Homo sapiens: one gene and its partner. The protein of the gene in region 1 interacts with the protein of each later gene in a pairwise test. Each region holds a gene or a part of one and is shown on either strand. Other genes may lie near its edges. The genes, in order: VILL and LITAF.

What was found.
Region 2: the proteins of VILL (region 1) and LITAF interact in binary tests that used the Homo sapiens proteins (3 or more experiments, as listed by UniProt).

Annotation. Positions count from the first base shown.
Region 1 is NC_000003.12:37,979,437-37,995,693, reverse strand, and holds the start of VILL (villin-like protein), read right to left. Parts: upstream 4,909-16,257; 5' UTR 4,865-4,908; intron 4,561-4,864; exon of another isoform or gene 4,522-4,560; intron 2,108-4,521; 5' UTR 2,022-2,107; coding exon 1,962-2,021; intron 1,797-1,961; coding exon 1,722-1,796; intron 1,557-1,721; exon of another isoform or gene 1,434-1,556; coding exon 1,228-1,433; intron 1-1,227. Other genes in the region: CTDSPL (CTD small phosphatase-like protein), read right to left, coding at 13,803-13,869, 14,831-14,952. UniProt on the Homo sapiens protein: Possible tumor suppressor.
Region 2 is NC_000016.10:11,570,551-11,586,208, forward strand, and holds part of LITAF (lipopolysaccharide-induced tumor necrosis factor-alpha factor), read right to left. Parts: exon of another isoform or gene 15,596-15,658; intron 6,443-15,595; exon of another isoform or gene 4,856-6,442; intron 1-4,855.

The DNA of each region.
Region 1 (16,257 bases):
GAACACAGACTGCCATGTGCATGAATGACTGCAGATGTGAGCACGTGCACGTATGTGCCTGCTTCATACATGCACTGGAGTCTGTGTGAACACATGTATGTATAAGTACATGGGTGCACACATAGGGCATGAGTGTGCATTCATTTCCATGTGTAGTGCACTTCCATGCGTAGTCATGTGGACACATGCATATATGTGTACATGTACATACATTTGGGGGCACACTGTGTATTTGTTTATCCCTGTAAGTCTAGATGGTGAGTGCATGAAGGTGGGCAACAGCATATATGTGTGTAGGTGAACATGGATATTCACACATGTCCATCTATAGGTGGACATACATGAGGGTGGTGTGTGTTTCTGCATCTGCGCATATGTTTGTGTGCATGTGTTCATGTATATGCTATATGCATATATAGGTTCAACTGTATGAAATGGAAATGATCAAATAGCAATTTCCTATATTTCCAAATATATTGCTAGTGTTAATTTAAAACACCTGTGAAGCAATTTACAGCGAAAGATATATTCCTACCAGCACAGTAACATAAAAGCAAACTCAAAACAACATTGGTGTCTGCTCCTAGGTATATACCAAGGGAAATGAAAACATTTGTCCACACAAAAACTTGTATACAAATGTTCATAAAAACAGATTCATAGCAGCCAAAAAGTGGAAACAACTCAAATGTCTATTAAGTGATGAATGGATAAATAAAATGTAGTATATTCATAAAATGCAATATTACTTGGTAATAAAAAGAAGTAATAACACATGCTACAACATGGATAAACCATGAAAACAGTGTGTTAAAACAAAAAGATCCCGTCAGGGAAGACCATTTGTTGAATGATTCTATTTCTATGACATGCCCGGAAGAGGCAAATGTATAGACAAAGCAGATGAGTGGTTGCCTAGGGCAGGGGATGGGGGTGTTGGAGGGAAATGGGGAGTGGTGGCAAAGGGGTATGGGGCTTCTTTTTAGGGTGATGAAAATGTTCTAAAATTGTGGTGATGGTTGCACACAACTGTTAAAAATCACTGACATGTATATGTACTTTAAATGGGTGAATCGTATGGCGTATGAGTTGTATCTCAATAAAGGTGTTACCCAACCCCTCCCGGCTTGCCCCATTCAGGGATGTGGACGATGGCCATCCCAAGACTGCCCCAGCCAAGGCACCGCCTCCACGGCTCCCTCCTGCCCCGGTCGCCCCCGCACTCACATGATTCCCGGGCGGAAGTAGCTGCAGAAGCAGTCGGACTCGTGGCCCTGCGCCTCGCGGTGCAGCACGGTCTGGCCCCCCAGCTCGTCCTGTAGGCGCTGCTGGAAGGCCTCCGCAGCGCCCTGCGCTTCCGCACCCGCCTGCTTCCCGACCCAGTAGTGCAGGTCGCTGGACGCCCCCTGCGTGGCCTTCGGGCTCTGGGGGACCTAGGGTCCGGGTGTTTGTGTATATGTGTTGCGGGGAAGACGGAGGTGCGGGTGGAGAAGGGGAGGATGTACCAAGGGCCATGGGGAGACGCTAGGCAGGGGCTTCCGCGGAGATCAGGAAGTGGGAGGGAAGGACTAAGAAGCCTCAACGGTAACCGCCCCCTTGTGGGATGTGATTCTCCGGCTCTCAACTTGCCGCTTCCCAGGGCAGAGTTTATGCCTGTGCCTCAGTCTCCCCAGTGCCGGGCCATGCCACCCCTCTCAGGCAGACTTCCCCAAGCGACTCACGTGGAGGATGACATAGCAGTGTTCCTCAAAAAAGTTCCCGTAAGCCCCCTCGGGTACCGGCACCATCTTCCGGTTCTGGGAGAGGAGAGTTCCCTGTAACAACTCAGGAGGCCTCTACCCATGACACCCGCTGGGGTGGGGTGGAAGAGGACGCTCTGAGTTGGGGGCGGGAGAAGCCTAGTGTGGAAAACCCCACGCTCTTCCATGTCACCAACTCTCCTATTTGGTCGTGCCTCTCACCTCAGAGATCCATATGTGGAGGCCTCCCTGCATGCCTGGGAGGCCCTTGCTGATGTCCATCGCAGGCCAGGCAGGAATATGGGACGACACAAGGAACAACAGCCAGAGTTCTCAGGCTGGAGACCGACACCTGGCTACCTGTACAACTTCATTATAGAACATGACTTTTATTAGGAGGGCTCTGTAAACACACAAATGTCAGCACACAGACTATGAAGACTCAGATTCTGCAGCAAGTGACAGGCTCAGCTGATATGAGTGGGTTGGGCAGATTAGGCATAAACACTTGACAATTTTTTTTTCCAGTTTTTTCGAGACAGGGTCTTGCTCTGCCACCCTAGCCTGCAGTGCATGATTCGAACACACTTCACTGCAACCTCCACCTTCTGGGTTCAAGTGATCTTCCCGCTTCAGCTGACAAATTCTTGAAACAGAGCTGAACTCTGTATAAACACAGGCTCTGCAAACAGCCACAGGCTCTGCAAATAGCGATTTAGCTTGCTCGAGTCTGTGCTCTGTGGTTCTGCGCGTGCAGAGAGGGAGAGAATGAGAGGGCAGTGAATGACAGTGACATGGAATGAGAAGTACCTGGGGGAAGGAAGGGACCCTCACTTCTGTCGATTTTGTTATGTCTTGGCACTTCATATTCAATTACCTGAGGCTTCCCTGCACCACTCCTTCAGAAACCTGTGTGTGAGGTTTGGTCCAAAAGTCACTTCTTTCTGAATCTCTCACTCAGGGTGACCCTGGTGTGTTAGTCCTTCCCTCCTCCCCCTCCACTCCCACTGTGTCTTATCAATAGCAGGAACACCCTTGGCTCCAGGCAGAACAAGGTGAGGGGACAGAGTTACAGAATCAGGTGTGGCACAATAGGTGTCATAGAGTGGCTCACATTCCTTACACCTTTGTCAGGGCCCCTGGTTTGGCCCTGGTGAGTTCACAGTACACTGTGGCAACACCCAACATGTAGCCAAAGAAATGTGGGAGCGGAGGAGGCTGTGGGGCAGGGGAGCAGGGGCAGAGTGGGCTGTCCTTCTAGGGGGTTAGAGCTGGGTCCGTCACAGCTCACAGCTCCTCCCGACACCCTATGGAAACCATAGGATGGTTGTTGGCTATGGTCTCCCTCACCAGAGCAGCAGATTCCTGAAGGCAGGGGTTTGTCTTGTTGTTTACTGTGGGATCCCAGCTGCCCGGCCCCCAGCAGGTACTCAGTAAGTACTTGTTGAATGAGTGAAGTGTGCTGCCCTGCGACTGGACTGAGTGAAAATGAATAGAGAAGGGAGCCGTCCGTGCACCCTAATTGCCCCAAGAACTGTTGCCACAGTTGATGGCCTGTTGGTGTGACAATGACATGAGTGACAGGCAGACATAGTGGCCATGAAAAGGTGATCTCAAGCAACAGAAAACGTGAGGACATTGGGTGACAAGCAGGATGTCCACCAGTGGTGGCCCCGTAGAAGGACACTGAGTAATAGGCAGAAATAGTGACCAGTGACAGTTACCAGAGGCCCAGGCAGGCAGTGACCAGAGGTGCAGACAGAAACTGTGAGCTGTAGCTCATGGAAGAGTACAACATGGTGACAGAGTGCCAGAAAGACTACTGGATGGCCTCAGAACAGTGTCAACCAGGGCACATGGGGGACTGGAAAGTCAAACTGGCAGCCAAAAAGTTGGGACTCGGCTGGTGTCACTGGGAGAGGCAGCATCGCCCCCAGGGGTCCGGGAGCCCGTCTGATATCCAGCCCCAGCCCGTAGAGCCAAGCCCTCAGCTGCCAGGGCTGAGGTCGCACTCGCATGGCACCTGTGTTCATTCTCTTTCACCTGGACTCCAGGGAGGAATGGGTGCTCAAAGATTGGGGGCCTCCTCCCTCCCCACAGTGCCACCTCCAGCCTCCCAAGCCCTCCTGCCCTCTTTCCTCAGGGGAACCCCCCACAGTGCCCCCTCCAGCCTCCCAAACCCTCCTGCCCTCTTTCCTCTGGGGAACTCCCTTTCACCACCTTCCCAAGTGGGAACCCTCCTATCCCTGGTCCTCTCCCTTCTCCTAGAAGCCCTCCTTCTCTTCCCTGGGGGTGCACTTCCTCCACTCAGGGCCCCTTTCTCTTCCGGATGCCCAATTCCTTCCCTGGTTTCCCTTTCTCTCCCCATGCCCCACGCCTCCGCTTTTCCAGGGTTTCCCTCTGTCCCCACTGGGTGCCCCTGCCTCCCCCTGGTTCTTCTTTCTCCCCTCTGATTTCCCCTCTCCCCTGGGATCCTTCCCTTTTTCTCCCATTTTTCCTCCCCAGGCACCTCCTCCTTTCCTGGTTCCCTGTCTTCCCCTACACCCCTCCCTCTCTCCCTCCCCACCCTCCTCCCCAGGTCTTTCCTTCTCTTCCCCAGGCTCCCCTCTCTTTCCCGGGGCACTCCCTACCCGCTTCACACACCCCCTCTTCTCTCCCCCTGCCCCTCGTGTCCCTGGGTGCCTCCTCTCTCCTCGCTTTCTCCCTCCTCCAGTGCCTCTTTCTCTCCCTACAGGAGCCCTTCCTTCTTTTGTGGGTACCTTTGAAGGGAGCCCGAGATTACCTTGCTCAGTTTCCATGGAGCAGGGAGTGGTGCCGCCCTCTAGAGTGAGGGGAAAGGAGGATGGGGCCAGGGTTGGGGGCAGGCACACTGAATTTGTGGGCCACGGACTTCCCTGCCCATCTACAAAATCTGCCACTTTCTTCCCCTTGGGCTGCCGGCCACAGCTGCCCTGCCCCATCAGTGTTTTCACCTGCTGGGCTGCTGCCGCCTCCCAATTCTGCCGCGGAGGCTCTGTGGCCCTGAGCCCTGGGACCCTATGCTCTATGCCCTTGACTTGAATAGCCCACTCTGCCCCACTGGTTCCCTGGAAACCCCCGCCCCCCAACTCTCTGCCCAGGCCTACCTGCTGGAAACTGCTCCCGCGCCTTCGCCCTGCCTGTGGGCAGTGCTAGGCCTGGCACGGGGCCAGTCTCTGCCTCCCTACTCCTGGTCCCCACCACTGTAACTCAATCCTAGCTCCTGCCCTGCAGGACACACCCCACCACACAGTGCTCAGCGGGCTAGGCATTCACTTAGTCAGCCAGTCAACAAATATCGAGCAAGCCGTCGGGACCAGCGCCCTCCCCAGGGCTATGGTTAAGTCTCCCAGGTCTCACTGCCTGGGTACCAGTGGCCAGAGAGAGCAGGGGATGGAGGCCTGGACTGGGCTAAGAGGTGGGGTGTGGAAGATACTGGGATTTCCTTCTCTGGAGTACTAGATGGGCCCCTGATCCCTCACCCGGAGTGGTGGGCTCCGCCTGGACCAAGAGGGCCAGGCCACTCCAGCAAACTTTAGGAGGAAGTAGGACCAAGGCTGGGGGCTGTGGGGTCAGGCTCTGTGAGACCCAGCTCACTTCAGGAGGGGAAGGTGGTCAGGGCTCCCTCTAGATATTTCTGCTGTCCCTACCCAAATGTGAGCTCACTGCCTGGCACAGCCCTCCTCAGGGAACCCTGATACCCATCATGGGAGAGGCCAGTCCAGCTCTTGCAGCGAAGACACCTCTCCCTCACCTCAGCTGCCACTCCACTGCCACTCTCTCTCTCTCACTGTGGGGTGGAGGGGCTGCAAACAGAGCCTTCCAGAAACTCCAGGGGCACAACCTCCTCTTGGCGGCTTAGGGCCTCAGTCCCAGCCAAGGCCCAGCCAGCGTGGGCCATCCCATCAAAGCCACGCTGCTAAAGCCTGCCCACTGCCCAAGACCCTCTCCCTGTGTTCAGTCTTCACCCCACAAAGGTCTCTGTTACAGGGGTCTGGGGACTTGGGGACTCGGGGGCAGTCTGTGTCCAGCAAGACCTACAGCTAGTGTGTGACTGTGTTTAACAGACACAATGCAGGGTCCCTGTGTGTGAAGGGATGCCTGTGTCACAGGCATTTGGCTCGTCCCCATGTGTGCCATTGCCTGTCCGACCTCATGTGTGTGCCTGTATCCTGGCATGTCTGTCTGATCCCCACTTGGGACAGGGACCCTGTCTGTGACAGTGGCAGTGTGTCCACTGTACCTGTGCATACCCGTTTCCCTGTCCCTTTTTGTCTCTGTGCCCAGGAAGACTCTGTGTCCTCACTTCTTCCCACCGACTCTTCCCCCATCTCCCCTCAGCCCACCCGCTCTGTTTGTTCTTGAATTCCCTGGCAATGGCTCTTTCCTAAGTCACCAATGCCCGCTGTCAACCAAGCGGCAGTCAGTTCAGTCACCATTGTTCCTTCCCCTCTCACTCCACCTGTCTCCTTCAGGCCTCTAAATGGCAGCAGGAGCAGAGCTTGGGCCTTCACTCCTGTTTGTTTTCCAGTTTCCTTCCCAGTTCCAGTCTGAAGGCTGCAAATAGCATGGAAACGCCAGTGTCTCCCTGACCCAACTCCCCCGAACCTTGCCCCGGCCTAAGTCTCCATCTTCCGTCTGTCACATCTCTCCCAGCACGTTTGGTCTCACATTTAACATCGCCTCAGGCCCCTCCCAGATCTACCCTCTCTGAGCCCCAGGAACACGTTCAGTGTGAACATCCAGAGGGTGCTTAGGCCCCAAACCTGGAGTTGCCCTGATTTCTCTCTCCCGCAAGCCACTGGCCCGTCGGCAGCTGGTTCATGGTGGATCCTGGGCCTGGCCCTCCCTCTCACGCCTCCTGCCTGCTCCGGAGCCAGCCTCCCTCTGTGTCTCTGGGTCTGCCTGGCCGCTACGACCATCCTACCACAGTAGCCAGAGGGATCTTTTTTCCTAAGATTTAAAAAAATTGTGGTAAAATATAAAAAATCTTTTTTTCACAAGATTTAAAAAATTGTAGTAAAATATACTTAAAATTTACCATTGTATCCCCTTTTTATTTATGTATTTATTTGAGACAGAGTTTTGCTCTTGTTGCCGAGGCTGGAGTGCAATGGCATGATCTTGGCTCACTGCAGCCTCCGCCTCCCGGGTTCAAGTGATTCTCCTGCCTCAGTCCCCTGAGTAGCTGGGATTACAGGCATGCACCACCACACCCGGCTAATTTTGTATTTTTGGTAGAGACGGGGTTTCACTATGTTGGTCAGGCTGGTTGCGAACTCCTGACCTCCAGCGATCCACCGGCCTCAGCCTCCCAAAGTGTTGGGATTACAGGCGTAAGCCACCACGCCCGGCCTGTATCCACTTTTAAGTATACGGTTCTGTGGTGTTAAGGACACTCATATTGTTGTGCAACCACTGCCACCATTTCCAGAACTCTTTCATCTTACAAAACGGAAACTCTGCAACTCTGCACCCATTAAACATAGACTCCCCATTGCCCCCAGCCCCTTGCAACCACCATTCTATTTTCTATGATTTTGACTAACTAGAGGGAAAATTCAACCTCAGAATTTAACCATAAACCCGCTCACATCACCCCCCTCCCCAAACCTTCCAGTGGCTTCCACTAAAACTGGGATGAAACTCTCAATGGCCGTTCCCGGCTGCCTCTCCCATCACTCTCCCCATGGCTTACTGTGTTCTGGCAATATGATTCCTTGTGTCCCTTGAAGACGCCCAGGTCGTTGTCTGCAGACCTTTGCACTGCAGGCTTCTCTGCCTGGAAGCCCCACTCTCTATATTCCCGTAGCTGCTCCTTTACTGCATTTAGGTCCCAGCCAAAATGGCAGCCCCACAGAGGGCCCTTCCCGCCCTCCTTAGCCACAGCAGTCTCCCTCCTCAGACATCACCACTTTCCTCATCGTGGTGCTCCAAGAAGCTGGTCTCTTTGCTAAGTGGGATCTTTGGTTAGTGTCTGTGTCCCAGCTGGACTGTGAGTCACTGTGGGCAGGGCCTTGCTGTTGTCCACCTGTGTCTAGAACGGTGCCTGGCGCACTGCAGTTGCTTAATAAAACGTTTGCTGACATGTTTCTGTGGCCTGCGCCTGACCCAGTGTGTGTGTGTGTGTGTGTATCTGGACCCTTTACTGGGCTCAGTCCTCCTTCTCTGAGAAGCTGAGGGGGTGACCCCTTTCCACTTTGGTTGTGGGCCAGATACCCCAGCTGGCACAATCCAGTGTCAGCAGCTTAGTGGGGGGCATGAGAACTTCTCCAAGGCCCCAACCCTCGGAATTGTCTGGGTCTCTGCAAACCAGAAGATGTCACCTGGAGAGAACTGCCCTGTCCAGAACCACCTACTCTGTAACCTGTGATCCCAGGCCCAGGATAGATGGCAGTCTGGCCTTAGAGCCTGGCCTGGGGCCAAGATGAGCAGCACTGCCTTGAGTCTGGCCTGGACAGCCTCCGGCTCATGGCTGTCACACCCCAGGCACACAGAGGGGAAACTGAGGCCCAGGGCAGGCTCACAGGCAGCTGGGTGCTGCAAGAATGGGAGGGTGGGATGCCTAGCCTTCCCCTCCCTCCTCCCCCTAGCAGGAAAGGGGTCCCACCACCCCATCCCCATCCCCACCTCCACCCCTCTTCAAGGGGGCCTGCCAGGAGTCAAAAGGGCCCTGGGCAGAGTTTGCCTTGCTAGCAAAGCCCTGCCCTCTTCCTGCCCCAGCCTCCCTTCATCTACCACCCCCTCACTCATCAAGTTTCCAGGGCTTGGGGCCTACTTTGTTCCTGCCTGGCTTATCTCCAAGGCCCAGCCCGCTCCATGTCAATATTGACCCAGGTGAAGGAGTGGCCCCAAGATAAGTCCAGGCTCCGCCCCAGTTTCTCTGGGCTCAGGCATCCTATCCCAGGCTTCATCCCCCAGGCCTTCTCCAGTCTTTCCCAGGCAGGTGCAGAATGTTGCCTCTCGTGGTGGAGTCCGGGCTCTGTGAGGAGCGTCCCTCTCTGAGGGCAGACAGGGATGGGGAGTGAGAACTGTTGACTCAGGTCCTGGAGCCCACTCCTGGAGATGCCCTGGCTCCTTGCGCTGGAGGGGAGCAGCCATGGGCCCGCATGTGTCCCCACATCTGGTGGTCCCGCCCTGGGCTGCAGGATGTGGAAGGAGCTGTGGCAATGGTCACTGGAGCTTGCATAGGCTGGAAGTGACTCCTCCCGAGGACACCACGGGAACAGCTGGGTGAGAGGACAGACCAAACACCAACCCTGGGCCCCTGCAAAGAGGTGTCACTGCCTTGCCCACTGTGGTCCTGCCCAGCAGCACGCCCACCCATTAGGACCCAGCTTGGGTCAGGAAAGCCCTGGCCTGTTGGAAGGGTGGTGGTGCAAGGCTGGGGTCCGTGCCTAGTGGGCAGTGTGATCCTTCCAATGTGTAGTGGGGGGCTCCACTCTGCTCCCCACCTGTGTGAAAGCAGGTGCTGTCAGCCAGGCAGGGGTCTCACCAGGCCTCCCTCCTCACCCCTGCCTTGGGAAAGGCTCCCAGTGCCCAGGTGGGCTTTTCTCTGTACTTTTCTGGATTTTCCAACTTTTTAGCAATGAACATGTATATGGCTGATCTTTCAGGTAAAGCAACACGTCATTTTCCCCAAAGCTCTGGCCACAGCTCCTTTGCCACACCTGGGCATCAGGCCTGGAACAGTTTCGGAGGACTTGCCTTTCCTCTGTAGCCAGTCAGAGCAGGGGGTCTCAGCCCTGGCTGCCCTTTCCAGTCATCTTGGCACTTAAAAACATGACGCAGGTCCCCATATGCAGAGATTGGAAATGGTCTGTGGTGGACTTGAGGGATGTATGTTTGAGACCCCTCAGGTAATTCTAGGGTACAGCTTCAGCCAGAGCTGAGAATCACTGCACCAGGAGAGGGAGCTGTAATGGAGGTTTGAGGTGGAAAGCTCTGGGGCCATGTCCTCCTCCCGATGGCCTCTGTTCTCAGAGGTCAGGCTGGTGGCCATGCCAGTTGATGGCTCTGGGCCTTGAACAGTCTGCTGACCCACAGCCAGCCCTGACACAGGAGATTTATCGTGCAAGCATCCAGGTTACTCCACAACTCGGCCACAAGCCCTCAATGCACTCCTTATCCATAAGCTCAACAGAATGTTCGTCAGCTGATGTGCCACTGTTCCCAGGCTGGCTTTTCCCAGCCACTCCTTCCCACCCTCCTGGGCTTCCTGCCCATTCCTTGGTCCTGTAATACACACAGATGATATGTGCTCAAACTAGAAAACACGGAAGGGCATATCTCAGCATGTCCAAGTCCCAAATAAGTGCCCTCTTGATGCCCCGTGTGTCCTTCCCACCTATTTCGGGGACCAGTGGACACTCATGAGGATACCTCAGCCTCAGGCACTGCCACAACTCTCAGCCTTTTATCTGTTTGCCTGTATGCAAAGGTGTGAAGCAGTGGGGTACAGGGTTGATGCCAGAGAAGGTGAGAGAGGGACAGAGAGGGCTGGGGAGCAGAATAAAGGACACAGCCTAGGAGTCTGGAACCAGGGGAGGAAGCTGCAGTGACTTCTCTCTGGCTGGCCAGCTGCTCCACTGTGATGACAAAGAACCTAGGGGCACGGCACAGGCTTAGCTGTGGGGTATTTGGGGTTTTGTCTCTGGGTAAATATTAGGTCTCCTGGGCTGATACACATACTGTGTCCTGAGTTATTTGGGATGAATATACATGCCTGGTAGAATCCTGTATCTTGTGATAGAGCAGACTGCAGAGCTTTGTCTCGCTGGCCTGTTTTCTCATCCACAAAATGGGGATAAGACTTACCTTATGAAATTGACACTGGTGCTATCCGAATCAGATATCATGAAGAGAAAGAGTCCTGAGAGTGGCGAAGCCATGTCCAAGTCCCTGCCAGGAGTCTCTAGCAGAGGAGTCGCTGCCTCTCTCACCTGCATGTACAGAGGGACTGGGTTCAGGGCACTGGCGACAGAATGTCTCACTGCGAGAAACTGCCTGGGACATCCTGACTCCTCTTCCGACTCCTTGCCGTGCTTCATCGGGCAATCATCTTGGCCACTGTGCCCATGGGTATGGGTATGGGTTTAGGCACCACATATAATGCCTGTGGTTCTTATGGAATGGGAGGCCCCAGTTCTCTCAGGCTGCATTTTCCAGCCTGCTGGGAGGGCTGGAATCTTTGTGGGAGAAGAGTGAGCCATACTGCTTCCGGAGGGAGGAAGCCAGGGGGCTGAACAGCAGTCACCCTTGGAGTGACAGGCAATTTGGGTGGGATGGACGAGCTAGAAAATCAGTCTGTGGCTCCTGGAGTGCTGCAGCCCCACTCCCATCCACCCCTGTTCCCCGGAAGTGGGGATACCAGGAGACCCAAGGTGATGGCATGAGGCTGCGCAGGAGGCGGGGAAGGGAGGGAGGAGAGGCGCTTCTGGTAGAAAAGTAGTCAATCCACAAAAGAGTGCAGTTTCACATGTTTATTTTTGGCAGGAAGGAAATCATTGCAAACCTTTTGATTGACAATACTCGCCCCTGGAAACGTGCACATTCCGCATGTAGCATTTCCTAAGTAATGCTGGATTGTTTATCACATTCAAATGTCCAGCAGAAATCCATGACTACCCAGACACCAGCATCTCCACTACCCGGGGTGGGGGAGGGTGTGTCAGTCTGCAGAGAAGCTCCTGGGAGAATGGAACAGGAACAGACATGATCAAAGTTACAGTACAGTAGGAACAGAGGCAGCCAGCCAATTTTGCACAGTTAACTGCAAGTACGTCAAGCCATTCACTCTTCTCGAACCCTGGCATGCCAACTGTCCAGCACAGCACCTTTAAAAGCAGAGGCACAAACGTAGGATTGTTTGACCATAGGGCTGTGTGGTTCTGGATTTTTTATTAGAAAGCCATCTTTAAAAATACAGGGTTGTAAAATGTTGCCAGGTTACAGACTTACAGGTTTTTTTTTTTAACACCAAAAGTTCAAATGCTGCAACCATGACAAGTCAGCATCATTAGGGCATCCTCGTGTCCCCAGAGACATCTCATCAAAATTGCACCACGTCAAAGGAGCTTCCTCACCATCAACTGTGGCAGGTGGCATTCCTTTTTCAGTATGCAAATGCATTATTTACAAACAGCTAATGCATGGAACCACAGACCAACACGTAGGATTCCAGAACAAATGGAAGACAGAGCATTAACAACATTGGGAGTGCCTGTGCACTTCCACTGGAGGCCTGGCCAGAGAAGTAATAACATCATAGTGGGCTGCAGTCCACAAACCCAAGGTGTCCTGTCCCAGAGCTCAATGTCAAAAATACTTCTCCAGAAGACTACATTTAAACCTGGTACAGAAAGGAGCATGGAAACTCAGGAGGTCAGGGTTCTCTTTTGGCTAAAGAGTTGGGGGTATTTTGGTAACATGGGAAGTATATGGCACAGAGAAGTGGCTAACAGGTTTCATTAGGTTTCAAAGCCCACAATTTAATACATGGTAATAATTAAAAACAATACCCGTATTTACCTTAAAAAACATAAACCCCAAACATTCGTCTCATTTCTTGGCCTTATGTTAGAATTCTATTGCTTCATTTACATGTAGATGATTAAAAATATATAGATATAGATATAGATATAGATATAGATATTTTGATTATGTACATAAAGCAGATTCAAGGGTTAAAATAAAAACAGAATTTTGGAGTGTGGTCAAATAAGGTGCACAGATTCCAGAACCCTCAGAGGGCCTGCTGGCCCTCTCCAGACATTCTGTGTCCGTGGTGCAGGAGCTGGGCCCGTCCCTAACAGCTCCGCACTGGCTTAGTGCAGTGGTGCTCACAGTTTCAGGAACTACTAGGTGAAGTGTCTGGCTCAAGTCTGCCAAGTGTCTTCACTCCATCGTCAGAAGTGGAGCACTATCCCTAGGTTCGATTCCCATGAAATATTTTATGATTTCCATCCTCTTTGCCCGCTCTTCCAAATAAGGCCCTGTGATGCCAACGAAGGGGGCATGGTTGAGGGTCTAAGGCTCTCATTAGGGCCTAATTCTGTGTGGATATCAACACATGACAGACACTTGACTGCAACATTCAAGACATTTAAGGCAGTGGGTTCATTTAATGACTACTTTTCCAAATAAATATTTGTGGCATGGGCAGTTCTACCATGTAACTGTCATTATCTGTGGTAATATCTAGCAAGGGGCTGTTCTATTTGAATTGGCATGTGGATTACTGGTTTGGAACACTCAGAATGCTGGGAGACCTGTTTACCCCCTGAATACTTACTTCCCTTCTGAATATTCACACAGCAGTCCACAGACCAAAGTGCTGTTGGGAGGATGTAATTGGCAGCTGGCTTCATTACTTTGTGAATGAAAGCAAAACAAAGATATTTTACTTTGACCCCCGATTTCCAGTCTTGTTAATGCCAGTCACTCCCACCAGAATGCTGGCTGAAGACCAACCCACAGAGGACTAAGGCAATGGTGCCAATATGAAAGGGTTCTTTTTAATTGTTTTTAAGAGCAATACTTTACAGACTGTCTTGTTGTCAAACAAGGAACATGGCACTGCTTAAACACCAAACTGGGAAAGGCTGCAAAGAGAGCCTGGGCTCTCCCTGTGGGAGCTCTTCCTCTCCCTGGTTTGGGGCAATGAGTCCCACATCTAGACAGGCTTCCCCAACCCTTGGCTCAGAAATAGGCTGTGCTTCAAAGGAGAAGACCAAGAGATGGACTTGGGCCACATCAGCTTGGTGGCTGGTTGAGGCCACAGGTTCTCAAGAGAGAACAGTCAGCTTATTTATCAAACAGGATCTGATACTGACTGCAGTTTAAAATCCATGCTACACCTAAGTGGTGCTGTGGTCCTTTTGCCTTTGTACCCTTCAGTGGCCAATGCCAGGAAGGGGTTACAGGTGGTGGAGGCTGCAATGGGATGGGACACCTCTGTTTCTGACCCTGTCCGAGTTTGTAGCTTAGCAGTGAGCATATTCTGAGCATAGGCACAGTGGCAAAGAACAGTGTAACAGCCGCTGGTCAATTCCATTTGGTGGCAGCGCGGTAGCAGCAAGGAAAATTCCCAAACAGCTCCATGTGTATCCAGCTTTTGGAAAGGAAAGATTTAAAAATCAATAAACAGATTTCTTTTATATCCAAGGGTTTTAGGGTTTCTTGTAACTGCTCTACCCAAACAATAACAACAAAAAACACAAATGTATGGCAGTAGTGTGAGAGCAGAAGTGACAGGATGTCACTTTTCAAGGAGAAAATGTGACCTCAAGACAAACTTGTCACCATCAGAAATAATAATATAAAATAATCTATTGTTTCCTAAAGTGTTGAGCCACACAATTGCAGATACATTCCAAACTGGGTCAAAAATGAGTGGAGACAATGACATAGTCATGAAATCCTCCTATCAGGAGCCTGACCCTGCAGCATGCCACAGGTTGTCAGAGCAGTCACACCTGTTGGGGGACAGGCTCCTGTGACTCACTCCCCTCCCTCAGCACCCCCCGCCACACACACACACGCTACCAGGTTCTAGAAAATTGTCATGTTCATCTTCTTATAGTATCTAAGACAATAAAAGACTAAAAGATGTCTGGAAATATGTTGTGTAGAAAAATTAACTCTCGGCTTAAAATAACATTCAAAAGGCACTTCATCCTGTAGGAAAGAGATTCTGAGTTGGGTCAGCTGCTCTGAGCTGGGATAGAAGGGGACAGGTGGTCTGCTTGGAGGGGAGGACAGTTGAAAGGAAGTCTGATAGAGATCAAGCTTTTTTTTTTTTTTTTTCTATTTTTTTCTTTTTTGGTATGTTTTAAGAAAAGCAAACCCAGTAAAATGCATGTCCCTTTATGAAATTTCTTAAAAGAGTTCTTTTAAAATAGTTGTTTCTGTTCTTAAAAAAACAAAACAGGTAGGCATGGCCACATTCACCCTGTGGCCTGGAGCACGGAGTATCCTCACTTTCAGCTCCCAGGGAGCTGAGGACAGGCAGGTCCCCTGAGGCCAGAGGTTCCAGAGTGCACAGGCGGGAGGCAGGCAGAGGCCAGGGCTACCTATTGCAGAGTCTGTGCAGCATGCTGTACACGTCGTCCTCCCGGCTCAGGCCCTCAAAGAAGGGGATGAGGTCCAGCAGCTCCGTGTCCGTCATGTCATCGAACCAGGACTGCACAGGCACCTGGAAGACAGTGCATGGAGGAGGCAGCAGGACTGCATCTAGCGCTGGGGGCTGCTCCTAACCTAACCGGGTACCCGGACTTTGAGCACTTTCTTTAGTAAGGACGACTGGTGTCATCATCGTTATCATCATGATTTTGTTTGTTCCCTTGTTCAAATTGAGGCCAATCCAAAGCTAAATGGCTTGGGAGATGGCTCAGGGAGGCAAAGTTAAATGTACCCAGTTTGTGTGCATTTGCCTGTTTTGTTTTCCTGCCACAGAAAAAGGTGGCCAGAGCATAGAATGTATGAGAACTAGCCTTGCTACTTGCCAACTTCCAAAAGCTCTTTCTACTGCACAAGATCGGTTCCTTGCACCTCAGAACACTTGGAGCCAGAGCTTACAAGCCAACCACTGACAGCGCGGAGCTCACATCCAGGACACAGGAAGGCTTCCACTTAGGGTCACTGTGCAATATTACATCACAAAGAGAAGTGGTAAATTTCCTCCCTTGCTTAACAGTGATCAGTTAAAAGTAAAAGTCTAAAATTGCAGAACATTCTGAAGCTATGGGCAAAGACAGGATTTTCCCTTAGTTTTAGGCAGAGGAGTGGGGAGGGGTGGTAGCCAGGGGTACAAAGGAGAGATTTATAAACAAATTTGAATAAACCAAACATGTTTAAAAGTAACATTTTAGCCCTTTTACAAATCTAAAGATAGCTTAGAAACATAGACATTTATTACGTAACTTTGAAAAATAAAGTAAGGACTAATAAAGAAATGACTACGCCTAGGGGATGGGGAGAGAGTGGAGGAGAGGGCAGAAATGGACACACTTCTCTGTCTTTATTTATAGTTTTGATGTCGGAACCATGTAAATGTGTTATATAATTAAAATACAATTAAACCATTAAGAAAAAAAGCAATAAAAGTGAATCTAAGTGTATATAAAATTGGTGACACAACCACACAATTACTTCAAGTGATTTGTGTGTGTGTGTGTGACACAGCGTCACACTCTGTCACCCAGGCTTGAGTGCAGTGGCAATCATAGCTCTGTAGCCTTGACCTCCTGGGCTCAAGTGATCCTTCCACCTCAGCCTCCCAAGTAGCTGGGACTATAGGCATGTGGCACCACGCTTGGCTAATTTTTTTTCTTTTCTTTTTTTGAGATGGAGTTTTGCTCTTGTTGCCCAGGCTGGAGTGCAATGGTGTGATCTTAGCTCACTGCAACCTCCAACTCCTGGGTTCTCCTGCCTCAGCCTCCTGAGTAGCTGGGATTACAGGCACCTGCCGCCATGCCCAGCTAGTTTTTGTATTTTAGTA
Region 2 (15,658 bases), on another chromosome or scaffold:
CAGCCTAATCCCTGGAAGCTCTGAATATGTGACCTTAAGTGGTAAAGACAGACTTTGTGTATGTGATTAAGAATCTTGAGATGAGGGGGTTATTCTGGATTAACCAGGTAGGCCCGGTGTAATCACAAAGGTCCTTATAAGAGAAAGGTAGAGGAGTTCGAGACCAGCCCTGGCCACATAGAGAGACCTCATCACTACAAAAATTACAAAAATTATCAAGGTGTGATAGCGCACATGTATCATCCCAGCTACTTGGGAGGCTGAGGTAGAAGGAGGTTGGGGGGTGGGGTCTAGGGGGTTGAGGCTGCAGTGAGCCACAGCTGCACCACTACACTCCAGCCTGGGCAACAGAGCAAGACCTCTGTTGGGTTTAAATGTAGAAAAAGGAAGCTGTTGGCTTTGAAGGGGGAGGAAGGAGCCATAAATTAAGAAATGCAGGCGGCCTCTGGAAGCTGGGAAAGGCAAGACCATGGATTTTCCCCAGGAGCCTCCAGGAGCACAGTCCAGCTGACACTGCTATTTTTTGTGTGTTGTTGAGTCCAAGTCTCACTCTGTCGCCCAGGCTGGAGTGTAGTAGTGCGATCTCAGCTCACTGCAACCTCCGCCTCCCAGGTTCAAGCGATTCTCCTGCCCCAGCCTTCTGAGTAGCTGGGATTACAGGCACCCAACACCATGCCTGGCTAATTTTTGTATTTTAGTAGAGATGGAGTTTCACTATGATGGCCAGGCTGGTCTCAAACTCTTAACCTCAGGTGATTCGCCTGCCTCGGCCTCCCAAAGTGGTGGGATTACAGGCGTGAGCCACTGCGCCCAGTCGACACATTGCATTTAATCTGAGGAAGCCCACTGCAGACTTCAGGCTCCAGAACTGGAAGATACTACATTCACGTTACCTAAGCCACTGAGTTCAGGGTAATGAGTTAGAAAACTCATCCATCCACCCTCATAGCTGGGTTGCCCAGATTCCCCACTGGCCCTGCAGATTCTCAATGGGCACTCTTCCCCCTCCCACAGCAGGGGGCACCAGGCAGAGGTCAGACCCCCTCAACCTCCCACCTGAACCCCCAGGCATCTGTCTGCCCGCCCTGGGCTCAGAAGCAGCCCTCCTCCTCTGGTTCAAACTTCAATCTGGTGAATGTGGCCATCTCTAGGTGGGAGTGGGCCCTGTGGTCTCTGGGAGGGACTGTGCTCAGACAATGTCCCCTCTTGCCAATCACGCCCTCTCGGCTGGCTCTTTTCCTGAGGTCTCCTAAATGGTTTAATCTTTCCAAGCACGGTGGCTCATGCCTGTAGTCCCAGCACTTTGGGAGGTGAGGTGGGGAGATCACTTGAATCCAGGAGTTCAAGACCAGCCTGAGCAAAATGGCAAAACTCTGTCTCTTTTTTTAATTAGCCAGGCGTGGTGGTGCGCACCTGTAGTCCCACCTACTCACAGGGCTGAGGTGGGAGAATCACTTGAGCCCAGGAGTTTGAGGCTGCAGTGAGCTGTGATCACGCCACTGCACTCCTGCCTGGGTGAAAGAGCAAGACCCTATCTCAAAATAAATAAATAAATAAACAAACAAACAAATAAACAGATCAAAACAAAATCCCCCTCCTGCCTTAGCCTGGGTCCTCAGCCCCTCCAGTGACCTGCCTCTCCTCCAAATCCACCTTCCACGTCAAGACACTCCTGTTCCCTTCCTGCTCCCCAGGTACGCAGGGTCTGCACGAAGCCCTTGTGGTTCCCCCCACCCCTCAACCTCAAACGCATCAAGCTGACCACAGCCCTCCCCTAGACAACACCCCGAGTCCTCATGCATGAAATGATGCTCCAGTCCTCCTCAAAAGCAGGGAGATGCAACTAAAACCACACAGAGACAGATGATCGGGCTGAATATCGTCAGCGAGAAGTCACATGACATCACACACCAGCGAGAAGTCACATGACATCACACACCTGCTGACGGGACATCACACACCTGCTGACGGGACATCACACACCGGCTGACTGACAGGATGAGGTGAGAAGGGCCTCTGTGGCCTTCCTCCCCTAAACCCGCAGCCCCACGTAGTCATGAGAAAACCGGCCACAGGGCATCAGGCCAGCACTCCTCAAAACTGTCAAAGTCACGGAAAACAGGAAAGTCCAAGAAACTGTCAGAGACCAGAGGACAATGAATAGAGAGGTGACAACTGAATACAACGTAGAACCCCGGCACAGAAAAGCCTTAGTTGGAAAAACTGGTGATGTCCAAATAAAGCCTGGAGTTTGGTAAACAGTAACGCAGCGGTGTCAGAGAAGCAGTTGTGGCCAGTGTCCCATAGGGAAGTAGATGCTGGGTGACAGTAAATGGGAGCTCTCTGTATTAATTGTACCAATTTTCTGCACATCTCAAGCTCTTTTTTTTTTTTTTGAGACAGGGTCTCACTCTGTCAACCAAGCTGGCATGCAGTGGCGCAATCTCAGCTCACTGCAACCTCCGCCTCCCAGGTTCAAGCAATTCTCATGCCTCAGCCCCCTGAGTAGCTGGGACTACAGGCGTGTGCCACCACGCCTGGCTAACTTTTTGTATTTTTGGTAGAGATGGGGTCTCACTATGTTGCCCAGGCTGGTCCCAAACTCCTGACCTCAAGCGATCCGCCTGCCTCGGCCTCCCAAAGGCCAGGGGTTACAGGAGTGAGCCACTGCACCCGGCCATAAAAGATTTTTTTTAAACCCCATAACCAATGCCATGATATCATGATATCATTTGTCACCCATCCACCAGGCAAAGAGCAAAATGTTGGTAACACACACAGAGAGCTAGCCTGGGTATCGATAAACTGAGGCTCCTGCAACAGAAACGGCCAACCAAATTTAACATGAACAAGTCCAGCAACTCTTCCTCCAGAAATGTGTGCTGGCAATAACCCCCACATGTGGCTGAAATGACAAAATGACAAGCACATGGGGTATTCACTACAGCGTTGCTGGTAACAGCAGAAGCCTAGTCCGCCAGCAAGGCAAGGGTACCAATCAGGGATGGTCCCTCCCCACAAGGTACTGAAACGAGGAAGAGTTTTATTTGGAGAAATGCAATCACCACCAAGATATACTATCATGTTTAATGAGGCAGGAGAGTGTTTGTAGTGTGCCACCATTTGTGTATGGTGAGAGAAGAAGATATCCTTTTTTTTTTTTTTTTTTTTTTAGGAGTCTTGCTCTGTTGCCCAGGTTGGAGTGCAGTGGCGCGATCTCGACTCACTGCAACCTCCACTTCTCAGGTTCAAGCACCTCTCCTACCTCAGCCTCCCAAATAGCTGGGATTACAGGCGCCCACCACCACACCCAGCTAATTTTTGTCTTTTTAGTAGAGATGGGGTTTCACCACGTTGGCCAGGCTGGTCTCAAACTCCTGACCTCAAGTGATCCTCCCGCCTCGGGCTCCCAAAGTGCTGGGATTACAGGCATGAGCCAAGGTGCCCGGCGTTTTTTTGGTTTTTTTTTTGTTGTTGTTTTTAAAGACAGGTTCTCACTGGGTTTTTTAAAGACAGGTTCTCACTGGGTTGCCCAGGCTGGAGTGCAGTGGCATGATCATAGCTCATTGCAGCCTGGAGCTCCCAGGCTCAAGCGATCCTCCTGCCTCAGCTTCCAGAGCAGCTAGAACTACAGGTGTGCACCACCACACCTAGCTAATTTTTTTATTTTTTGTAGAGACGGGGTCTCAGTATGTTGACCAAGCTTGTCTCAAACTCCTGGGCTAAAGCAATCCTCCCACCTTGGCCTCTCAAAGCGCTGGCATTACAGGCATGAGCCATCATGCCTGGCCTAGTATTTCTTTATATAATATGCAAAAAATGTCTCCAAAGGCATACATAAGAAACTTAACGGTCGGTGTTTGTCGGGAAGGGAACCAGGTGGACTAGGGGATGGGGTGTGACAAACACTGGTCACTTTTACACCCTTGCTGGTCTTTTGTATGTTAAGCCATAGTAATATTACATATTTACAAAATACATACTTTTTTAATTAAAAAAGAAAGTCTCCTCTGCAAACCTGTCTCTGCCCTCCCCAGGCCTCCATCCTGGGTCCTTCCCGCCTCTGGGTAAAGGTGATGTCATCACAGCCCTTTGTGTTCCTGCCCAGCACCTGGCCCTGGGACCTTCCCTGTTTGCAGAGTGATTAAAGCTTCTAATTATTTCTATTTGGTAAGAAGACGTTCCCTTTACCACTCCCACTATATCAACCCCAAAATTTGCACTAACAACATCCTATTTGTCAATATAAAGTTTTTTTTTTCTCTTTTTTGAGACAGAGTCTCATTCTGTGGCCCAGGCTGGAATGCAGTGGCGTGACCTTGGCTCACTGCAACCTCTGCCTCCCAGGTTCAAGCGATTCTCCTGCCTCAGCCTCCCAAATAGCTGGGATTACAGGTGCATGCCACCACGCTCAGCTCATTTTTTTATTTTTAGTAGAGACAGGGTTTCACCATGTTGGCCAGGCTGGTCTCGAACTCCTGACCTCAAGTGATCCGCCCACCTCGGCCTCCCAAAGTGCTGGCATTACAGGCGTGAGCCACTGCACCCGGCCTAAAGTTCTTTTTTTTTCATGTTGCACTATGATCCAGTTTTCCTCCAGGGGGTTCTAAACACCAATGGTGGACAAAGGATTGAGAGATGTGGACCCTCCCTTGCCGGCCTTATGGGACCCATATAGGGAGGCAAAGTCAACCAACAGGGGCAGATGTGGGAGAGATATGAAGGGGAGACTGGGTATAGTTTCTTTTTTTGTTTTGGGAGGGGTACGGTTCCTAGGAGCGAGTGGAGGATCTGGGGACAAGGGCAAGGGGGCAGATCTGGGTACAGCGGGGACAGACACCCAGAAGCCATGTACCTGTGTCCCGTGGGGCAGGTGAGTAGTGCGGGGCCAGGAAAGTGAGGTCGTGTTACAGGAGCCTTCACATCACAAGGTGGGCACCAGCGCCTGGGTTTATGGGGGACCCCACCAAAGGGGCTTCTATTTCAAAAACCAGCAGTCCAAGAACAACTTGAAAACCCCCAGGGGGATTCAACTCCTGCCAAGAAGGAGAGTTCAGAGTCTAAAAATAAGCTTCAAAACCGAGAATACCAAGAGAACCACCCACCGCAGAAGCCATCCCAACAACTCGCGGTCAGCGTAAACACACATCAAAGGTCTCACGGCCCACGGCCAAGGGTGTCTTCTCCCGAGAACACAAAAAACCAAGTTGAAACACAGCAGAAACCCCAGTCTCCATAGCTTCTGGTGTTGCTTCATTCTGACCCACAGCCTCTGTAAACATTCCCCCGAAAAAAGTATCTTAACCTTTTTCTTTTCTTTTTTCTTTCTTAAACTGAACTTTGTTTTACAATCGGGGTCTCGCTGTGTTGCCAAGGCTGCAGTGCAGTGGCGCAATCATAGCTTACTACAGCCTTGAACTCCTGGGTTCGAGTGATCCTCCCACTTCAGCCTCTCGACCAGCTGGGACTCCAGGCACATGCCACCATGATTAGCTAGTTTTTTTAATTTTTAATTTTTTGTAGAGACGGGGTCTCACTATGTTGCCCAGGCTGGCCTCAAGTGATCCTCCCAAAGCGTTGGGATTACAGGCATAAGCCACTGCACTCAGCCTTAATCTTTTTCTAAAATCGATCCCAGCTGGGCACGGTGGCTCATGCCTGTAATCCCAGTGCTTTGGGAGGCCGAGGCGGGTGAATCACTTGAGGTCAGGAGTTCGAGACCAGCCTGGCCAACATGGTGAAACCCCATCTCTACTAAAAATCCAAAAATTAGCTGGGCAAGGTGGTGCATGCCTGTAGTCCCAGTTACTCCAGAGGCTAAGGCATGAGAATTGCTTGAACCTGGGAGGTGGAGGTTGCAGTGAGCTGAGATCGCACCACTGCACTCCAGCCTAGGCAACAGAGCAAGACACTGTCTCAAAATAAATAAATAAGTAAATAAATAAATAAATTCCCATATTCCCCTCTCCTTTCTTACAATCTGCAAAAAAAAAAAAAAAAAAAAAGAGAGAGAGAAAGAGAAAAAGAGAAAGGAAAGGAAAAATGCTTGTGTCCACATCTGTGGTTCTACACGGTCCCAGGCTGCCAACAGTCCAACATGGGGCTGATGGCGGCTCCATCCCACCAACACAATTTGCTACTTCAAAGCCTCTGAGGACTTGGACACCAGCAGAACCCAGCGTGCAAGGACTCTGTGTAAAGTAAGAGTTCATAGTTGCCGTGGGCGCCTCCTCTGAGTGAGGTAAACAGGCTTGGGCATCTGCTTTGATGATAAATATATACCTTATTTGGGAGTCTTCTATTTGCTTACTTCCTTTGTTCTGGCCAAATTCCAGATGACTGCAGGTAGTCCAACTGTCTGTCTTTGAAAATTCCAGAAAACAGCAATCTTGCCTTTAGCAAGACTTACGGATAATGTGGGAACAGGGTGGTGGTGGACATTGCCTGTCAAGCGCTTTTCATGCCTGTTTCACATCCCCTGGCTGACACCACATGATCTAGCCCTTGATGACATATGTCTTCCTCCTGCATCCTAATTGCTTCCTGTCTGCAAGTTAGCTTCTATTAATATTTCCCTAACTGGACCATATTACGTTACTCTCTGCCCACCCCAGGGGAAGGGATGTGATCTATATTTCCCCACGAGGGCTTGAGAAAGCCAAGTGCATCTGACATCCTTGCACAGCTGAGGTCTCCTGTGCCCATATGGCACATCTATCCCATCTATGACAGGGTATCTATGGCATCAGCTCATTAGAAGTGTCTATTTTTTTTTTTTTTTTTTTGAGACGGAGTCTCCCTCTGTTGCCCAGGCTGGAGTGCAGTGGCACAATCTCGGCTCACTGCAAGCTCCACCTTCCAGGTTCAAGCAATTGTCCTGCCTCAGCCTCCCGAGTAGCCGAGATTACAGGCACCCACCACCACGCCCGGCTAGTTTTTGTACTTTTAGTAGAGATGAGGTTTCACCATGCTGGCCAGGTTGGTCTCGAACTCATGACCTCAAGTGATCTACCCACCTCAGCCTCCCGAAGTGCTGGGATTACAGGTGTAAGCCACCACACCTGGCCAGAAGTGTCTATTTTTTAAACAAGAAAAGACAAATCTTCCTCACTGACAAATTCCAAATAGTATGAGTAGATACTCCCTCTCCAGGGGATGCACTTTTATTTTATTTTCTTTTTTTGAGACAGGGTCTCACTCTGTCACCCAGGCTGGAGTGCAGTGGCACCATTGGCACCATCATAGCTTACTATGGCCTCAGCCTCCTGGGCTCAAGCGATCCTCCTCCCTCAGCCTCTCGAGTAGTTGTGACTGCAGGTGTGCATCAACAAGCCCAGCTAATTTTCTATTTTTTGTAGAGATGGGGTCTTGCTCATTCCACTATTTCCAGGCTGGCATGCAATGGCTTGATCGTAACTCACTGCAGCCTTCAACTCCTGGGCTCAAATGATCCTCCCACCTCAGCCTCCTGAGTAGCTGGGGCTACAGGTGTGCACCACCACACTCAGCGATTTTTTTTTAACTTTCCATAGAGATGGGGGTCTCAATATGTTGCTCAGGCCGGTCTTAAACTCGTGGGTTCAAGTAATCCACCCGCCTCAGCCTCCAAAACTGCTGGGATTATAGGCATGAGCCATGGCACCTCGTAGGAGGTGGAATTTAATCTCTCCCTTTCCTCTCCTGTGTGTGGGCTGGACTCCTTGACTCTCTTTCAAAGAACAGAGTCGCCAGGCGTGGTGGCTCATGCCTGTAATCCCGGCACTTTGGGAGGCCAAGGCGGGTGGATCACCTGAGGTCGGGAGTTCGAGACCAGCCTGGCCAACATGGGGAAACATGTCTATATACAGGCACATGCCTGTAATCCCAGCTACTCAGGAGGCTGAGGCAGGAGAATTGCTTGAACCCAGGAGGCAGAGGTTGCAGCGAGCCAAGATCGCACCATTGCACTGTAGCCTGGGCAACAAGAGCAAAACTCCATCTATGAAAAGGGAAAGACAGTAAACTACAAGCGAGAAAATCTGGCAAATACCTCCTTTTCACTCTCTCTCTTGATATTAATTAACATCAGGAATACTTTACTCTCTCCCTTGATATTAACATCTGCAATGTCATGTGCATGTCATGTGCCCTCTGATGTGACAGGATGAGAAGGACACTTCACCTCCGTGGTCTTCTCCTCCCAGAACCCACAACCCCACTGTAATCATGAGAAAAATATCAGACAACCCTGATTTGAGGGAAATTCTACAGAATCCCTCATCTTCAAAAAGTATCTAGGTTATGAAAAACAAAGCAAGACTGAGAAACTAACATAGCCAGGGTGGCTGAGGAGACAAGATGACTAAATGCAATGTGGGGCCGGGCACAGTGGCTCATGCCTATAATCCCAGCACTCTGGGAGGCCGAGGCGGGTGGGTCACCTGAGGTCGGGAGTTCGAGACCAGCCTGGCCAACATGGGGAAACCCCATCTCTACTAAAAATACAAAAATTAGCTGGGTGTGGTGGTGCGTGCCTGTAATCCCAGCTACTCGGGAGGCTGAGGCAGGAGAGTTGCTTGAACCCGGGAGGCCAAGGTTGTAGTTAGCTGAGATTGTGCCATTGCACTGCAGCCTGGGCAACAAGAACAAAACTCTGTCTCAAAAAAATAAAACACAGTTTGGGAGGCCGAGGCAGGTGGATCATGAGGTCAGGAGATCGAGACCATCCTGGCTAACACGGTGAAACCCCGTCTCTACTAAAAATACAAAAAATTAGCCGGGCGCGGTGGCGGGCGCCTGTAGTCCCAGCTACTCGGGAGGCTGAGGCAGGAGAATGGCGTGAACCCGGGAGGCGGAGCTTGCAGTGAGCCGAGATTGCGCCACTGCAGTCCGCAGTCCGGCCTGGGCGACAGAGCGAGACTCCGTCTCAAAAAATAAAATAAAATAAAATAAAATAAAATAAAATAAAATAAAATAAAATAAAATAAAATAAAATAAAATATATCAATGCAATGTAGTACCCTAGGTTAGGACCCTGGCCCAGAAAAAAAGGACATCAGTGGGAGAACTGGGAACTCCAGATAAAGTCTGGAGTTTGGTGAACAATAACATACCCTCATCAGTTTCTTGGTTTGACAAACATACTGTGTGATGTAAGATGTGAATAATGGAGAGAACCAGGAACTGGGTGAGGAACTCCCTGTACTAACTTCACAACTTTCTTGCAAATCAAAAATTATGCCAAAATTAAAAGTTTATTTAAATACTTTCAGGGATCCCACTTATAAATGAGTCAGATAGGTGATGGGGCTCAGGACACACTACCCCAAAATATGACTGCAGGAGACTAGAACATGTCACCTCAGGATCTATTTCTTTGGCATATATTGAGCTGATTATTCTGAGAAACTGCAGACACAGGAGCAGCTCTGAAAAGCTGCCCTTTGATACAATAAATTGAAATCTACAGGTTGATTATCCCAAATGTGAAAATCCAAAATCTGAAACTTTTTGAACACAGACATGATGCTCAAAGGAAATGCTCATTGGAGCATTCTGGATTTTGGATTTTTGGATTAGAGATGCTGAACCAGTAAGTAGAATGCAGTATTTCAAAATCTGAAAAAAAGATCCAAAATCTGAAACACTTCCGGTCCCAAGCATTTCAGAGAAGAGATACTTGATCTGTGTAAAGGAAAGTGACTATCATAGGACCCTCATCAACCAGTGAAGTTTTTTTTTTTTTTGAGACGGAGTCTCATTCTGTGGCCCAGGCTGGCGTACAGTGGTGTGATCTCAGCTCACTGTAACCTCTGCCTCCCAGGTTCAAGTGATTCTCCTGCCTCAGCCTCCTGAGTAGCTGGGATTACAGATGCCCACCACCACACCCGGCTAATTTTTGTATTTTTAGTAGAGACGGGGTTTCACCATGTTGGCCAGGCTGTTCTTGAACTCCTGACCTCATGATCCACCCACCTTGGCCTCCCAAAGTGCTGGTATTACAGGCGTGAGCCACCGTGCCTGGCTGGAAGATCTTAACTTAGGAGAGGAGACTGAAGGTCGACACCTGGTCACAAGCCATCACCTGCTCTTCTGAGGCTACTCTGAGACAACTTTCATCATTCAAGAGGCTTTTTATCTGCATTAACAAGGCAACCTTTGTTCACCATACATTTCCTCCCCTTACCCTTCTATAACCTATCACCACCTGCCTCCAGGAGCCCCAGGCCCCTATTCCTTTTTCTTTTTTATTTTGAGACAGGGTCTTGTCTGTCACTCAGGCGGGAGTGCGGTGGCACTATCTCGGCTCACTGCAGCCTCGACCTCCCAGGCTCAAGCGATCCTCTTGCCTCAGCCTCCAGAGTGGCTGGGATCACAGGCATGAGCCACCATGCCAGACTAATTTTTGTATTTTCTGTAGAGACAGGGCTTTGCCATGTTGCCCAGGCTGGTCTTGATCTCCTGGGCTCAAGCGATCCTCCTGCCTTGTCCTCCCAGAGTGCTGGGATTACAGGCATGAGCCACCACGCCCAGCCGCTTATTCCTTTTTCGTAGCTCAGGCACACTACATAAACTTCAATTATCTGACCTTGCTTTGAGTTTCACTTTCTGTGGGACTCCCACATTTATGCATGGAATAAATTTGTATGTATTTTCATCCGTTAATCTATCATCAGTTTATTTCATAGGCTCAATTATGGTACCTTCAGAAGGCAGAAAGAAAGTCTTCTCTCTCCCCTACATAGGCCAAGAGTAAGAAAAACTATAAGGTGAAATGGAATAGGCAGGTCTTACCCCAAAGCACTCAAGTTCAATTTAAAAAAACAAAATTTGAGTGCTTTGGGGTGAGGCTCATGCCTGTAATGGCAATACTTTGAGAGGCCAAGATGGATGGATCACTTCACTCCAAGAGTTTGAGACCAGCCTGGGTAACATGGCGAAACCCTGTCTCTACAACAAAAAACCACTAAAATTAGTGTGGTGGCTGAGGTGGAAGGATGGCTTGAGCTCGAGAGGGAGGTTGAGGCTGCATGGAGCTGTGATCACGCCACTGTACTCCAGCCTGGCCAACAGAACAAGGCCCTATCTCAAAAAATATATAAGTAAATAAAGTATATTTTGGTTAAATGCCAAAGACTAAGTGGGGGGTAAAGGAGAGTTTCTGACACTTCTAACTGATGAGGTGAAAAATAAAAAATAAAATAAAATAAAAAGATACCTAGAATTTCAGCAAAAGAACAGGTTTTAAAGGAATCTCCCAAACTCTGCCCAGCTGAATGCATATTTACACCTGACCACAAGTCCGCACTCCCCTCGAAAGGTATTTCACAGCTTCCACAAAGGAAGGACGACAAAATTGAGCTCACAGAAGTAGAGAAAAGAACTGTGGTTACTGGAGGTTACAAAGGGGAGGGGAAGAGAGGCTAGAGAGAGGTTGGTTGATAGGTACAAAGTTACAGTTCAATGGGAGGAATAAGTTCTACTGTTCTGTAGAACTGTAGGGTGAATATGGTTAACAATTATTCAGTGTATATTTTCAAATAGCTAGAAGAGAGAATTCTGAATGCTCACAACACAAAGAAATGATAAGTGTTTGAGGTGATGAACATGCCAATTACTCTTTGATCAATTACACACTGGAGACATATAAGAAAATATCACTCTTTATCCCATAAATGTGTATGATTATTATGTGTCAACTAAAAATAAAAGAGAAAATGGTCAATGGCTTTTTAAAGGGTTTGAAAACAAGAGCAAGATATAGTGAAATATCTATTTCACTCACAACGGAAAAAAAAAAAAAAAAAAAGAACTCCCCACAAAGCTTTAGCCACATGTGGGTGGTAAACTCTTCTAAAAATATATCCTCAAGCTGTGTATAGAACTGTTTTCTACATTTGGGTATCAGATCAACACATAAAAGGGCAAGGCCTTCAGAAAGATAAAGCGGCTTTTTAACTACCAACTTAATCCTCGAAGATCGATTCTTCCAGGAAGAAAAAGGAGAAATATTCAATTCTACTCTGGTCTCCATCTCCCAGCCCCCAGAAAAGAAACACTAAGCTAGGCCCATGAATATGTATATCGCAGAAATGACCCCAGAATAAAAAAAGGGATTCCTTAGGCAAAAGAAGGGCACTCACATGCAAATTGTCAGGTCCCCTAAGAAAATAGCCTAGTTTGTAAACAAGAAAGAGAACCAGCTGCGAGGGTCAAAAAGGTCTGGTCTTTTAGGGTCTCTGGAGAAAAACGTTATTTCCAATAATGGGAGCACAGTGGATCCTGACTATAATCAACTTTCAGGAACTATCCAAATTGTACACTTATTAAATTGAATATTGCTTAAAATTCTTAAACTAAGGAGGGTCACCTGGCAGGTTTTAAGCTACAATAATTCTGCAATACGGTTTTTGTTGTCATGGAATTTAACCTGTCTATCATTCCTGAAAATGTTCAAGGTGAATGGTGCGTCTTAAGCCATAAATGGTTAAGCAGGAAGGTAGACAAAAGGGGAAACCCGGACCTCCAGCTCTTTGGGAAAGGAAGCGAGAAATTGGCCTTTGGTTATTTGATCCCAAACAAATTCCAGTTTCAGTAGACCTCAGTAAAAGTACAGAAGCTCAGAGTGAAATATTTCAGAGAAATGTGTGCCAATTCCATCTTCTGAGTTCAGGCTGTTTCTGCAGGGCGGTATGTCCCACAAGTCAAAGATAAAGTTACCACAATCTTAAAGCCAGGTTCAAGCATGGCGTAATGACAAATCACAGTGATTTGTGGAATGGAAAATGCTTCCATCGGGGAGTTGGGCTGCTCCCCCACAATCAGAGTGGGCAGTTTTCCTCTGGACTCCTGGTGAAACCACATCCCTAGTTTCCACGTGAATCACAGTTTTTCATCAAACAGTGCAAGGAGATCATTAATAAGACTGAGACTGCATTAGGATACAAAATTGTATGAACGCTGATGACAATTTCATAGAAAACAGGCACAAAGACAAAAGACAGAAGCCGCCCGATAAGGACAGCCAGTGGTAGTTGTTTCGTTCTATAAGATTATGCCTTTCTTCTTTATCTTCCACACTTTAATATTTTTTAATAAAAAATTTCAAACTATCAGTGCATCATCTAGGAATAACCTCATGGATTCAAGTTTAAGGCAAGACATCATTAAGCTCTTAAACTTACCTGAGGCACACTGTCAATTAAATCTAAGGCTCCATGAGCTAAATAGCTTAAATTCTCCAACATTATTTTCTCTGAAGCCTCCAGCTTTGGATCCTGGTATATAAACTCCTACCTACTGCGAGGTGAGCAGAGAATTACCATCACATAGACACCCTCCAGAATGGTTCCTTTCTTGTGTCCATGCCTTAAGCTCTATGAAATTACACAATTCTTCTACTGAAATAACCTGCAGCCAAGGGACAACTTCATTAGCTACAAAGCTGTTGTCACCTGTGTCCAGAGTGTCAATCAATACAGGCTCAAACAACAAGATGAAATTATGAGGACCCTGGAAAATGCCACTTGACCTCAAATAACAATTCTTAGGCAAGTAAACATCAATCAAATTCAGAACAGACCATGGGTGGCCAAACAGACCCGGGAGACGTCAAAAATATGTGTGCTAAAGAAACACAGAACTAAGGAAGTCTATTTACCTGATAGACCGCCTCACCCACGGGGCTATTTTCACTGCTGTAAAAGCGAAAACAAATAGAGGACAAGTCACAGTGCCAAGAATACAGGACTTCCTCTTGCAGATCCTCTTTTTTCCACCCTCACTGTAGCTCTGGGGAAATTCCTATTCAGTGGGAGAAGTTTAAGTCACAAAACGGCACCAGCCCATTCTCAAAGTGCTATTATACACCTCTGAGCAGTGAGGATGGGTAATGTCAGCAAAATATGCACTGTTTATTTTCTTGAAAATTAACTTGGGCTGGAAACGCCTTCCAGCTCCTTCCTCTCAGTGGATTTTCCATTTACTGTCTTCAACCACCTGGGCTTGTCTGTACCTCTTCCACAGCTCTACTGAGACCCTCCTGTTTGTCTGAACTATGTCCTCATGTTCCTTCTGCCACATGTGCTCAGGCCTCAGTTTTTCCATGAAACTTTCTCTAACTTAGCTGCCTCCTTTCCACTGTTCTCAAGCCCTTTCTGGAGTTACAAGGGCATTAGCAAGCACCAGCTTTTTCGCCGGTGTGTGTTTCTACTTTCTACCCATTGCGTAAACCCCTCAGGACCAGGAGCCATTCTTCTGCATCCTTTACACGGCAAGGGTAGCGCTTTATTTCTCAACAGCCCGCCCATAAAAGGAACGGAAGTAACAAAGGGAAATGTATTCCCCAAAGACAGTGAATTACACTTCAATCTACTATTTTAGAGACTTAAGAAATGGGCCGGGTGAGGTAGTTCACACCTGTAATCCCAGCATTTTGGGAGGCCAAGGCAGGTGGATCACTAGAGGTCAGAAGTTCGAAAACAGCCTGGCCAACATGGCAAAACTCTGTCTCTACTAAAAATGCAAAAATTACCTAAGCATGGTGGCACCCAACTGTAATCCCCGCTACTTGGGAGGTTGAGACACTAGAATTGCTTGAACTCAGGCAGGGGGTTGAGGTGGGGTGGGGAGGGTTAGAGGTTGCAGTGAGCCGAGATCGCACCACTGCACTCCAGCCTAGGCGACAGTGAGACTCTGTCTCAAAAAAAAAAAAAAAAAAGAAAGAAATTGATCCTACGTCTTAGATCAATCACCCAGTCACTTAATCTGTGAAAACATTACAAGATACTTTCTCAAATGTGAATAAATGCATCAATTATTCATGCCTTAAAGTAACAGGAAAGAGGGAGATGGGCCTCCCTCATGGTAGATTACAATTAAATGTTTCTTAGAGAGTTTGGTGCACATTTAGTTCCCAGAGCAAGGGCTGGTGGAGAAGAAAGCCAAGTGCAATATGGGTGTTACTCTATGCCAGGTAAAGCAAGTCACACGCCATCTAGATCCTGCTCCAACTGATAAAACCAAAACACTGGTGGAATTCCAGATACCAGCCTGCACTTCTCTCTGTAGGCATCTGGGTTAGTCCTAAATAGGAAGTCCTAAAAAGAGTCACTCTGAGAAGGCAGGGGGTGAGAGGGCAGATGAAGCAGCCAAGCACACATTAAGGCAAATCATGGCTTTCCTAAAGAGGACCCCAAGCTGGGCTTCAGACAGTCTTTGAACCAGCACCAGTGCACCAGGCCAAGGGGAGGGAGGCATCCTCTTTGGGAAGACTGGTAGGAGCTTGGAAGACCCCGTGGCTTCCACAAACTGTAGATTTCCCAGTGACCACTGCTCAGTCCAACAGCCAGTGACATCAGCTCCACTGTCGGGAAGTAGAAAACCAGTGAAGGTCCAACTAGCCTGGTCCCTGAAGCATGACTGGCCCTTCCAGAACATACACCTTTCCCCTATCACCTCCTCTCCCTGACCCCGAAGAGCTTCGGGCACACCACCAACTGACCACCTATCCACAGTGACCTGCAAACCAGAGCGGGGAGGGTATTTGCCTAGCTTGGCAGGGAGGGGCGAGATCCACTTCTGCCACCAGTCACCAGCTGGTCCCACCAGCACCTACCCAGCACCGGCGGTGGACGGTGAGCGGCGTCTGGGCCCAGAGCTGGGTGCCATCAGCAGTAAG